2 separate regions of the Homo sapiens genome follow, and region 1 is linked to region 2. The links come from fine-mapping of genetic effects on gene expression. Tissue or cell type: whole blood. Region 2 holds a variant in brackets; the other region holds the start of a gene. All regions are shown on one strand. Distances are between the middles of the regions.

Region 1 (5,374 bases), 22 kb after region 2:
GACCTTTCAACCATAAAGGCAGAAGATATCCATCACACACCCACTCTCCCTTAGGGATAAAGCCCTAAAAGAATCTAAATCTTTTCCTAGTGCCTTCAGGATATATATATATATATATATGGTACATACTAGGTCTAGGCCTACACATTCAAAGTTTTACTCTCCATTACCACTGATAATTTTTTGTCTTCTACGTGAATATAATATATATTCCTACATGTGATTCCCCAGTCCTTCTGTACCAAGAATAAATAGAGAAGAATTGGGGGAAGGGGAGCATCAGAGATGGGCTGTATACAAAATCATAAGGAAAATTTAGTGATCTAATATAAAAAGGCAAAGTAAGAGACTGAAAAAAAAATCAAAGAATCAAAATGAAAGAAGAAATCCCGGTTCCAGAGAGCAAGTGGTAAAGCCAGAGTAAGGCTAACTAGAAACCTGGTAATAGAATTAAGTGCCTTCCAAATGTATTTATTTATGTGGAAAATGCTTTAGAAGTTTAATTTCATGTGCGGCCAACCTTGAAAAATGGGTTTCCAGTTGTACAATGTAAAGACACAATCCTGAAGGTTTCTAGAAAGCAACTGTTATTATGAAGAGTATACCTAACATCAATTTTGGACAATCTTTTCGACCTCCTCCAACATCAACCTGGAAGACCAACGATACAAAAGCACTCCACAGGTGTAATACCTGGGAGTTTGGGGATTTCAGGTTGCCTGTTCCTCTTCACTAGGCCTTTCTGCTATAAAAAGTCACATCCAGGAAAGATAATCATTTTTTTTTAAACTATTTGTGCTTTAGTCATAATTATCCTGACAAAACCAGACAGATTTTTAAAACATTACTGCCACAGACTAGCCCATTTTAAATTTGTTCCGACCTCAGATCCCTCCCACTATAGGTTTAGTAACCTTAAATAGAAAAGGAGAACCCTAGAATACAACACTTGTTACAAAAAAAAACTTCAGGAGATCTCAAATGGCCTCCAGCAAACCCTGAGAAAAAGCAGTTATAAAGTTTGTTTCCAAAGGCAACGACCTCTTATCCACTGTAATCTCAGTTAAGAGTGGTTCCTATCACTAAAGTCCCTTCAGCCCTTCAGCTCTGACAAACCACCTTCAAAATGGTCACACAGAAGTGCACTGCACCCTTGTATTCAAGTTCACCTAGACCCTTAATAGAAATGCTGACCTGGGGCACTACTCCACACCTGCTGAATCAGAATCTGCAACGTAGCAGGATCCCCAGGCGACTCCCATGCGTCTTAAGCAGCGCTTACTGATGGCTGCGCCATCAGGGCAAAACTGGAAGTTCCGGGGCTGTCCTAACCCCAGCAGGTCCTTTGCTCAAGAGCCTGGGGAGTCACTGGCTACTGCTGTTTTCCCTTCTTCTGGACCCAACCCGAGCCCCGCTCCGCGCGAGTAAAGCTCTGAAGATGTGTGTCAGGGCGAGACTCCTGGCCTGGCACACGGTCCTCGCCCCACCAGCCCCAGCCCGGGCCGACCTCTCACCTGCTCCTCCAGCGGGAGCGGCTTGAGAGGACTCCGAGCCCCGTGTCGAAACACGACCTGCACCATTTTCAACTTCAGCAGGCTGCGGTCGACCGGACACTGGCCATCGGCCTCCTGCAGCTCGGCCAGGGCCACCCGCCGCTGGTGCAGGCAGTACGCCAGCGAGGTCAGGACGCCCACTGGGGTCCACAAGCGCATGCTGAACACACCAGTGATCATGGTGGTAGGCCCTCGCTGCCCTCCGGGTTGAGGCTGCAGGAGGCAAACACAAGTCTTCTGCGGGCGCCGGGGCTCAGCGGGCGCCCCCAAGTCCGCGGGAACCTGCGGATGCGTACATCCAGCCCTTCAGCAAGCAGGGACCGCTGTGCCTCCCGGCCCTGAGGGAGACCCCGAGTGGGAACGGGGGAGAGAACAAGAGGTGGCAGCAGCGAAGAGTCCCTGGGAGTTTTAACCCGGGTCGGGGTTGGTCGCTCCTGCTGCACACCGGGCCGGGGGAGATCGGATCCTTATCTTTTGCCCGACGAGGAACATTAAACTTGTATTTCAAGTTTGGCCTCCAGCACTCTTGAAGGAACAGGAGCCGGCCCTGAGTTCCCTGGCGGCAGCGGCTCCACCAGCAAGGACTACTCGATTCCACTTTTCTATAAGCAAGCTCCTACCCACCTCCTCACCTACTCAGGGACCCGTCCCAAGTGGACCCGCGCACAGGAGCACGGGAAAACGAGTCCTGTGGTGACACCTCGCCTGGAGACTCAGAGCTGCGGAAACTACAACTCCCACAAGGCTGCGCGTACCGCGGCTCCCAAGAAGTGGCTTGTACCCGCCCCCCTCGCCTGCGGGCCTCGCCCCTCCGGCCCAGCCAGCCGTTTTCCAGGCGTGGATGGCCCACGGACGTGCCTGGTCCGGCAGTGGAGTGGTAGTGAATCTGTCGGGCCATGGAGTTTGCCAGGCAGGAGGATCGCGAGCGCAGGAGTAGAACTGGGTGGTGGAGGGGAGTAGTTTGAGTCTAGTTTTGAATGTAGAAGACTTCCTTCCAGTCCTGGAAGCCTGGTTGCTGCAGCGAGGAGCTGAGACACCTGCCGAGTGATTGCCATTTGCGAAACACAGCACTAGGTGCTTTATATTTAGTCATTTACTACTCCCTTCTCTGTTTTTAAAAAAATTCTCAAGCTTAAGTCATTGTAATCATGTAGAACTTTCAGGTCACTGATGTGTTTACTTCCATCCAGAATACTTCTTGTGGAAAAAGCCAGGCCTTGCCTGTGGGTGTCCCAGTGATTAAGAACCTAAGAGGCGCCATGGCTCACGCCTGTAATCCCAGCACTTTGGGAGGCCGAGGCGGGTAGATCATGAGGTCAGGAGATCGAGACCATCCTGGCTAACACGGTGAAACCACGTCTCTACTAAAAATACAAAAAAAAAAAAAAAAAAAAATTAGCCAGGCGTGGTGGCGGGCACCTGTAGTCCCAGCTACTCAGGAGGCTGAGGCAGGAGAATGGCGTGAACCCGGGAGGCGGAGCTTGCAGTGAGCCGAGATCGCGCCACACGACTCCAGCTTGGGCAACAGCGCAAGACTCCGTCTACAAAAAAAAAACAAAAAAAAACCTAAGAACACAGAACAATGCCAGCCTTACCACCTGCTAGTCTGGTTTCTGTTGATATACAGGTATCCCAAGCCTGTGTTTCCAGATCTTTGCAACAGGACACAATCTGGGACCCACTATGTGTCTATCTCCAAAGATCAAACTGGGCCAGATGTAAAGACAACATACTTACAGAGCATGGCTCCTGGCCTGAGAACAAATTCTGTTCACCAAGCTGGAAGGTTCTGAGTGCTCCCCTCCCTGATGCAGGGAGGAGGGTCATTTTGGAACACTACATATTGTCACAATTTTCTCCCTAGCCCAGCCAAGGGACTCACTTTTCAGAGTCTTATTGTGTGTGCTGATGTGATTAAAAATCGAATACTGTTTGCTATGGACTCAGTTGTGTCCCCCGCCAAATTCGTACCCACTAAGTGACTGCATTTGGACATAGGACTTTTAGAAGGTGATTCTGTCAGAGGCATTTGAACCATAGTGACTCCATCTTGAATAGCGGCTGGGTAAAATGAGGCTGAGACCTACTGGGCTGCATTCCCAGGAGGTTAGGCATTCTCAGTCACAGGATGAGGGGGGAGGTCAGCAGGACTGGTATCACAAGAAACCAGTCAAAAAGACCCTGCTGATAAAACAGGAAGTGGTAAAGAAGCTGGCCAACACCAACCAAATGCAAGATGTTGATGGAAGTGACCTATGGTCAAACTCACTGCTCATTTTACGTTAATTATAATGCATTAGCATGCTAAAAGACACTCCCATCAGCACTATGACAATTTACGAATGTCGGGGCCAGCAGTTACCCTATATGGCCTAAAGTGGGGAGGAACCCTCAGTTCCAGGAAATCCCACTCCTTTCCCAGAAAATTCATGAATAATCCACCCCTTGTTTGGCATATAATTAAGAAATAACCATAAGTATTTTCAGTTGAGCAGCCCATGCCCCTGCTCTGTCTATGGAGTAGCCATTCTTTTGTTTCTCTTTTTCTCTAATAAACTTGCTTTCACTTTATGGACTCGCCCCAAATTCTTTCTTGCCCGAGGTCCAAGAACTCTCTCTTGGAGTCTGGATCAGGACCCCTTTCCAGTAGCAATTTTGGTTAAGTGAAGATATAAATGTGAGGTCCTAATCCAGTAGGATTGATGGCTTTATAAGAAGAGAAAGAAGGATCTCTCTCTCCACACAGGAGATCTGATGGTTTTATAAGTTTTTGGAAATTCCTCCTTCTTTCTCCTCTCTGGTCTGCCAACTTGTGAAAAAGGTGCCTGCTTCCCCTTCTGCCATGATTATAAGTTTCCTGAGGCCTCCCCCTGTCCTCAGCCATGCAGAACTGTGAGTAAATTTACTCCTTTGTTTATAAATTGTAGTATCTTTATAGCAGTGTGAAAACGGACTAATACAGCAATGGTCCTGTCAGGGCTCATGTGTCCTGTTGGAGGGGGAGTGTGGGGAAGTGTGGGGAACAACTTAGCAGCAGATCTCCAAAAGAAACCAGAGTGAGGGTGGAAAATAGCTGATTTCATGTGGTTGTTAAAAGCACTGTTTGTCAACACATGTGAGACAAACCATGGGGAGTCCAGATGTATTTTGTGTGTGATAGTAGTGGCAGTGAGCTGCAATTTAAAAGAGGCTGGGCCGGGCGCGGTGGCTCACGCCTGTAATCCCAGCACTTTGGGAGGCTAAAGCAGGCAGATCACCTGAGGTCAGGAGTTTGAAACCATCCTGGGCAACATGGTGAAACGCTGTCTCTACCAAAAATACAAAAATTAGCCGGGTGTGGTGGCACACATCTGTAATCCCAGCTACTCGAGAGGCTGAGGCAGGAGAATCGCTTGAACCTGGGGGCAGAGGTTGTAGTGAGCCGAGATTGCACCACTGCCCTCCAGCCTGGGCGGCAAAGTGAGATTCCATCTCAAAAAAAAAAAAAAAAAAAAAAAGAGAGAGAGAGAGAGAGAGAGAAAGAGAGAGACTGGAAGTCCTGACCCAGGGTAGGACCGTGTGGGTGGGGGTGTTAGGGTGGTTGCAGGAAGCAGGGGAACACTGAGTAGCTGTTATTTTGACCCTGGTTTTAAACTACCAGGCAGGGATGGCTCGGGAAATAAGCCCTTTCCCAGCCAAATTGTCTTCAGAGGATTGCATTTAATATTATGTAAAAACTCAGTTTTAATAATGAGATTAGATAAGAAACAACCACATTCACATTTTTTTCCCCAGTGGTGAGCACAGTGCCTGGCTTGTAGTAAGTACTCCATAAATACTTG
Region 2 (5,374 bases):
ACATGGAAAGTTTTGTGCCAGTGAAATCCAAGTGGATAAAAGTGTCTGAAGCTCAGAAGAGAAACCTGAGCTTGAGATATCTCAGCTCCCTGATCTGGAAGTTGTCAATATTAAGATAGTAGGAAGTGGAGAGGCTTTTGTGGTTGCTGTTTTCTCTGAGAGGTAAAGGGACTGGTGGTTTGAAATCAGAGAAGGGTTGAAATAGATTCTGGAGAAGAACAGCAACATTGACAAGGAGATAGGGGGATCATCAGGTACTCTTAGGGGGCACAGTTAAAGGTGGAGCTCTTATGTTGAGTAGTTCCAGCCTTACCATTGCAGAGCCCTGGGGCCCACATTTGTTTCTGGAACTAAAACCACCAGGGGCCCAGTGTCCTTCCTGCTTCTTCCTGCTGAGCCTCCACATCAGGGTTCCATCTCACCACCCAGCAACGTTCCCTGACCTTGAAGCCTATCCTTTATCTAAACGCAACACGCTTTCATCCTTGCTTTCCTGGTTAACTCCTACCCACCTTTCTCTACTCAGATCAGGCCAGGACTTTTTCAGAAGCCTTCCTTGACTGTTCCCCACATCCCCTGCCATGTGAGCAGGAAGTTTCTTCTCTATACCCAAATAGCCCCTCAAATACCTATTACAGCATAAAACATACAGCACTGTATCACTGATTTACTCGGCTGCCTCTCCCACTGGACTGCAACAACTTGAGGGCAGAGTGTTTTCACCTTTATAATGATCACTACTTAGTAGGTAGCTCAATACATGTGAAATTAATATAGGAGAAAAGAACTAAAGTCCAAAACCGACACAATTCTACAGGGTCATGATGTCCCCAGCCCGTGTCACACAAAGATGCTTCTAACCTTAGAAACCAACTCACAAAATAGAGAAATATCCTTTTGGTCTCAATATTATACCCCTTTTCCGTTCAGGAAGAAATCTTAGTAAACCCACAGAAAGGAAATATCCTTACATTATATTAAAGTACATTACCCCTTGCTCTCTCCTCTTCCCAAACACACAAAGCAGGAGGCATTGTATAAAGGCACTTTATTTTAAAATCAACACATCCTGCTTTTATAAATCAGTTACTCTTCATTTCCAACTTCCATCACCTGAGTTTGAGAGCAGAGTGCGTGGTATTTTTCTGGGCTTAAGGTATAAACTGACATGGCATTCAAGAACATGTCCAGCGGGCAGAGCCCATCAGGGCAACCTCTCGGCACCTGCTCCTGCAGAAGAAACATAACTCAGCAGGTCCGCCGAGGAACCTGTCCTTCTGCTATTTCCAGCTAAGCCCAGAGATCTGAGAGGCTCTGATCCATGTGGTATACATGTGCATACATATTACAGACAGGAAGGCCCCACTACCCGGTGAGCTTCCAGAATAAAAGCACTATGCTCTGCTTGTAAAAGTCACTCAAAAAGTGTTGAATTGACTGGGAAGAAAGAGTCGAGTTACATCCCCGAGCTGGGAGAACCAACAGGCTCATCCCTGGGGCGTGCTCTGGCCTCTGCCCTGGACCCCAGCCCTGATGAAGCAGCCAACACCACGGGTGCTAACAGCAGCACACATCACCTCCCAAAGATACCACCAACAATCTCCAAAACAGGTCTCACAGCCAGGAGGCGACATCCTGACAGGGACGCTCAGGAGAAGAGGAGGGGGACCCTGTTCCTAGGAGTCTGTAACAGAACTGGGATAAGGCTCAAGCCCCATCCTGCCACCATCTGTCAAGTTCTGCCTGACCCCTGGGCCATAGCCAGGAGTTGCCCTATAGGATTCAGAGAGCTGACTGTGCCAAGAGAGACTCCACTGGGCCTGAGGAGGGAGACTTGGTGCTAACTCAGGTAGGTGGGTTTTGCAGGAGGGTGCCTCACCACCACCCAACCCCACCTCAGGGGTATTACCTTCCCGTGGTAATAGAGCTGCACAAACCACTCCTTAGATTCCAGGTGCTGGTAAAGTTCCATGGTCAGGTCAACAGCAAACGGTGGCCATTTGTGGTCAAAAATCCCCAGGGTCATTAAGAGCGGTATGAAGGTCACATCATGAGCCGCATAGAGATACAGCTTTCTGCAAGAGGAAACAGCTCTCCACAATTCTCTGCCTCAGGACTCTGAAGGTCAGGATGTGGCCTGCCTCCTTTACGTAAGACACACTTGCCTCAGAAACTAGGTGACATCTAGAAATCAGCTGAGCCTGGTATAAAAGTCCTTTGCAGTAGATCGTGGGAAGAACCCTTGTTCCCACTCCCCGTGTCTTCATGAGGAGGGTCCCCGCCAGAGAAATTCTCCTGGCCTCCTCCTTGCCACCTACTCACTCCTCCCTGGTGAGTTTCAAAGAAGAAACTGAGCGTGTGTGGCTTAGACCCTACCTCTCTTCTCTCTTTGGGTCCTGCCAGCCTACATGAATGCCCTTCCTACTCTCAGCCATGGGATGAGTTTAGTAGGGCTCCTTGTTGGGGAAGCTTGAAGTTTTGGGGTATTAAGTTTATTTCAAAATAATATTCACAAGCCCATTTGGCCCTCAGCACATTCTCCAAATGGCTTTAATCTGTAATAAGAATGCCATTTTAATCTACATCTGCCTGACACCAGTATCCATCTCTTAGGAAAGACCAAGGATTTTATTTATGGACCCCCATCCTAGAAGACTAGCATTGGATCCTGTGGTGTTCTAAAGATCCAAGGCAGAAGGTGGCAAGGTGGCAAAAGCCAGAAAAAATGTACTGTCATTGCAGGTACTGTGAAGGACAGGAAATGGTATTCACAAGATTTGCTATTACAAATCTTGGCCCAAAGTTCCTGTTTCAACTCACTGTCTCCTATTCCTCTTACGCCATCATGAGTTTCTAGCTGT[G/A]ATACCACAACAGTGCTTCTCCAAAATTCAGGTGACTATCAATCACCTGGGGATCTTGTTAAACTGCAGATGCTGATTTAGTAGATCAGGCTGGAGCCTGAGAACCTGATGAGTTCTTGGGCAACGGTGAAGCTGTTTTCCTGCAGAACGCACTTAGCAAGTGCCTAGGACACATAATATTCCACAGCCGTAGTCCCAACCTTGGATTCAAGGCTCCAAAAGTGGCAATGGAGGCTCATGAGCTACTTCCAACATTTTTTTTTTTTGAGACAGAGCCTGGCTCTGTCACCAGGCTGGAGTACAGTGGTGTGATCTTGGCTAACTGCAACCTCCGCCTCCTGGGTTCAAGCAACTCTCCTGACTCAACCTCCCGAGTAGCTGAGACTAAAGGTGCGTGCCACCATGCCCGGATAATTTTTGTATTTTTAGTAGAGCAGGGTTTCACCATGTTGGCCAGGATGTTTTCAATCTCCTGACCTCGTGATCCACTCACCTTGGCCTCCCAAAGTGCTGGGATTACAGGCGTGAGCCACTGCACCTGGCCACTTCCAATATTTTTAAATGCCTTATGGATATCATACCTTCTTTACACTCAATGAAAGTGGTTCAAACTACACAATCCATTAAGCAATTTATCTTTGTTTTGGACTATTATCATATCAAATCAGTGTGACATCATAATTGGCTACTGTTTGACATATCTTCAATTAATAAAAAAAAGAGAGAGAGAAAGCAAAAATAAAATTTTCAAAACATGGTAGGAGGGGTGCAGCAGGAAGAAAGGTTAAAAGATTGTGAACCTCTTTGACACTTGAGGCCTGTTAAACATCTACCTTCGGTCACTGACAGCCTGGTTCTTGCCTCACTAAGATTTGGGTTCCCTCCCTACAGCCAGAAGTTCCCACGGCCCTTAGCTGCACAAAGCAGAGTTGCTGTGCCAGGTACCTGATCTTGTCGGGGGCAGTGGCAGAGTCCATGGCTTTCAGCAGGTTGCTCTCTAGGATGTGGAGGAATGGGCCTACTGCCATCTGAAGACTTTCCCTGTGAAAAGTGAACAACATTTAAGCACCTAGAGGGCACTCAGCATTCAGGGGACACAGACTGATTCTGCCCCCAGGACCTCATGAGTCCAGACAGAGCTGAGAAAAAGGCAAGTAATGCATAAGGGCCAGCAACGGGCCAGAAGGAGAGAAATGGCACCGAGTCCGGTCTTGGGGTCCTCTGTGAATGAAGACTCCCAACAACACAGGCACCAGCACACAGACCTGTTGTGAACACAACTGAGATGGGAGGGGCTGAGGGAGCAGGAGAGTGGTAACCTGGATAAGCCGTGACCAACTAGGCCTTGGGGAATCAAAGAACAAAGCTGACAAGCTGGGAAGAAGAAGGGGTAATAATTTCCAGGAATTCTAGAAGGCCCTTAGAAAAATAATCAGAAGGAACAAGAACATCCTTAATTTTGTTTCCTATGTGCCAGCCTTCCTTCTTTTGGAGTTTGGGCCATAAAGACATTTCTTATTTATGTCTTATTTATTTTACAGAAGAAGTTCAGTGGTCGTGCTCCCAGGCTTGGCTGTGTGGCTCCACCACTTTCATTCTCAGGCCTGTCACATCATGGCCACAGGTGACTACTGCAGCTTAAAGCATGTTCACTCACAGTAGTGAACAAAGTCCACTTACTATAGAAGAAAGAAATGTTTCTCATCTACTCATCCTAGCAGCTGATCAGCTTCCATGGAGACTTCAGAGACTGGTCTTCTCCTTGTTTTTGTGCTTCTCACTTTTTATCAAAGAGAAAAAAACACCCCTCCTAGAATTCCCAGAACCCAGCCACTGACAAATGAAAACAAGGTTGCCATGATTGGCTTAGACAAATCCTTATTTGTGGTGATTGGGTAAATGACCATCTTTATAAGTCAAGGAATGTTGCAGCAATGGATGAAGAGCAGGCAACCAACACTGTATGCAACACATACTTTTCAGAAGAATGTATACAGGCAAAGCCAAGTTGGATGGCCTTGTGAGGTTGTAACCATTTGTCCTTGAAGAAATGTTAGTTTTACAAAACCAGGGCTAATTGGAATGGAATAGACAAGGTCCTGTTTAAAATGATTTACACCAGAATAAAGCAAACTATACCATAGGCCAAATCTGACCAGTTTTGGTAAACAAATTTTACTGGCACACAGCCATGTCTATTTGTTTGCATATTGTCTTTGGTTGCTTCATGTTACAAGGGCAGAGATGAGTAGTTGTAACAGAAATTGCATGATCCTGACAGCTTAAAATATTTACTAAATATGTGTGTGTGTGTTGATAAAGGAGAGGGAAGTAAGTAACAATTTAGGTATGGTGGCACCCCTTCACAAGCAGAAAAGGGAAGCTGGCAAGTCCCAGGGAGTGGCAGCAAGCTGTGTGGCTTGGCAGGAACCTTCTAGATGCCCTAGGCTTGCACAGAAGTGGACACACTGACCCTGAGTGGAAGGAATGCAGTCAGGGGCTCTTATCCTTGG

What was found.
Region 1: it holds the start of ACP6, and the variant in region 2 is fine-mapped to the expression of ACP6 in whole blood (TOPMed, PIP above 0.99).

What each region holds. Positions count from the first base shown.
Region 1 is chr1:147,668,316-147,673,689 of GRCh38, forward strand. ACP6 (acid phosphatase 6, lysophosphatidic) reads right to left here and starts at 2,209. Exons shown (of 10, transcript NM_016361.5): 1 at 1,515-2,209. The coding sequence starts at 1,733. RefSeq lists enhancers at 1,057-2,000, 1,212-1,271, 1,912-2,161, 2,602-2,671.
Region 2 is chr1:147,646,337-147,651,710 of GRCh38, forward strand. It overlaps ACP6 (acid phosphatase 6, lysophosphatidic), which reads right to left. Exons shown (of 10, transcript NM_016361.5): 8 at 3,807-3,902; 9 at 1,910-2,075; 10 at 1-1,230. The coding sequence ends at 1,087. Among named protein-coding and RNA genes, the nearest start is that of ACP6, 22 kb to the right of the region's middle. The variant G/A (reference allele first, on the strand shown) is at 2,862.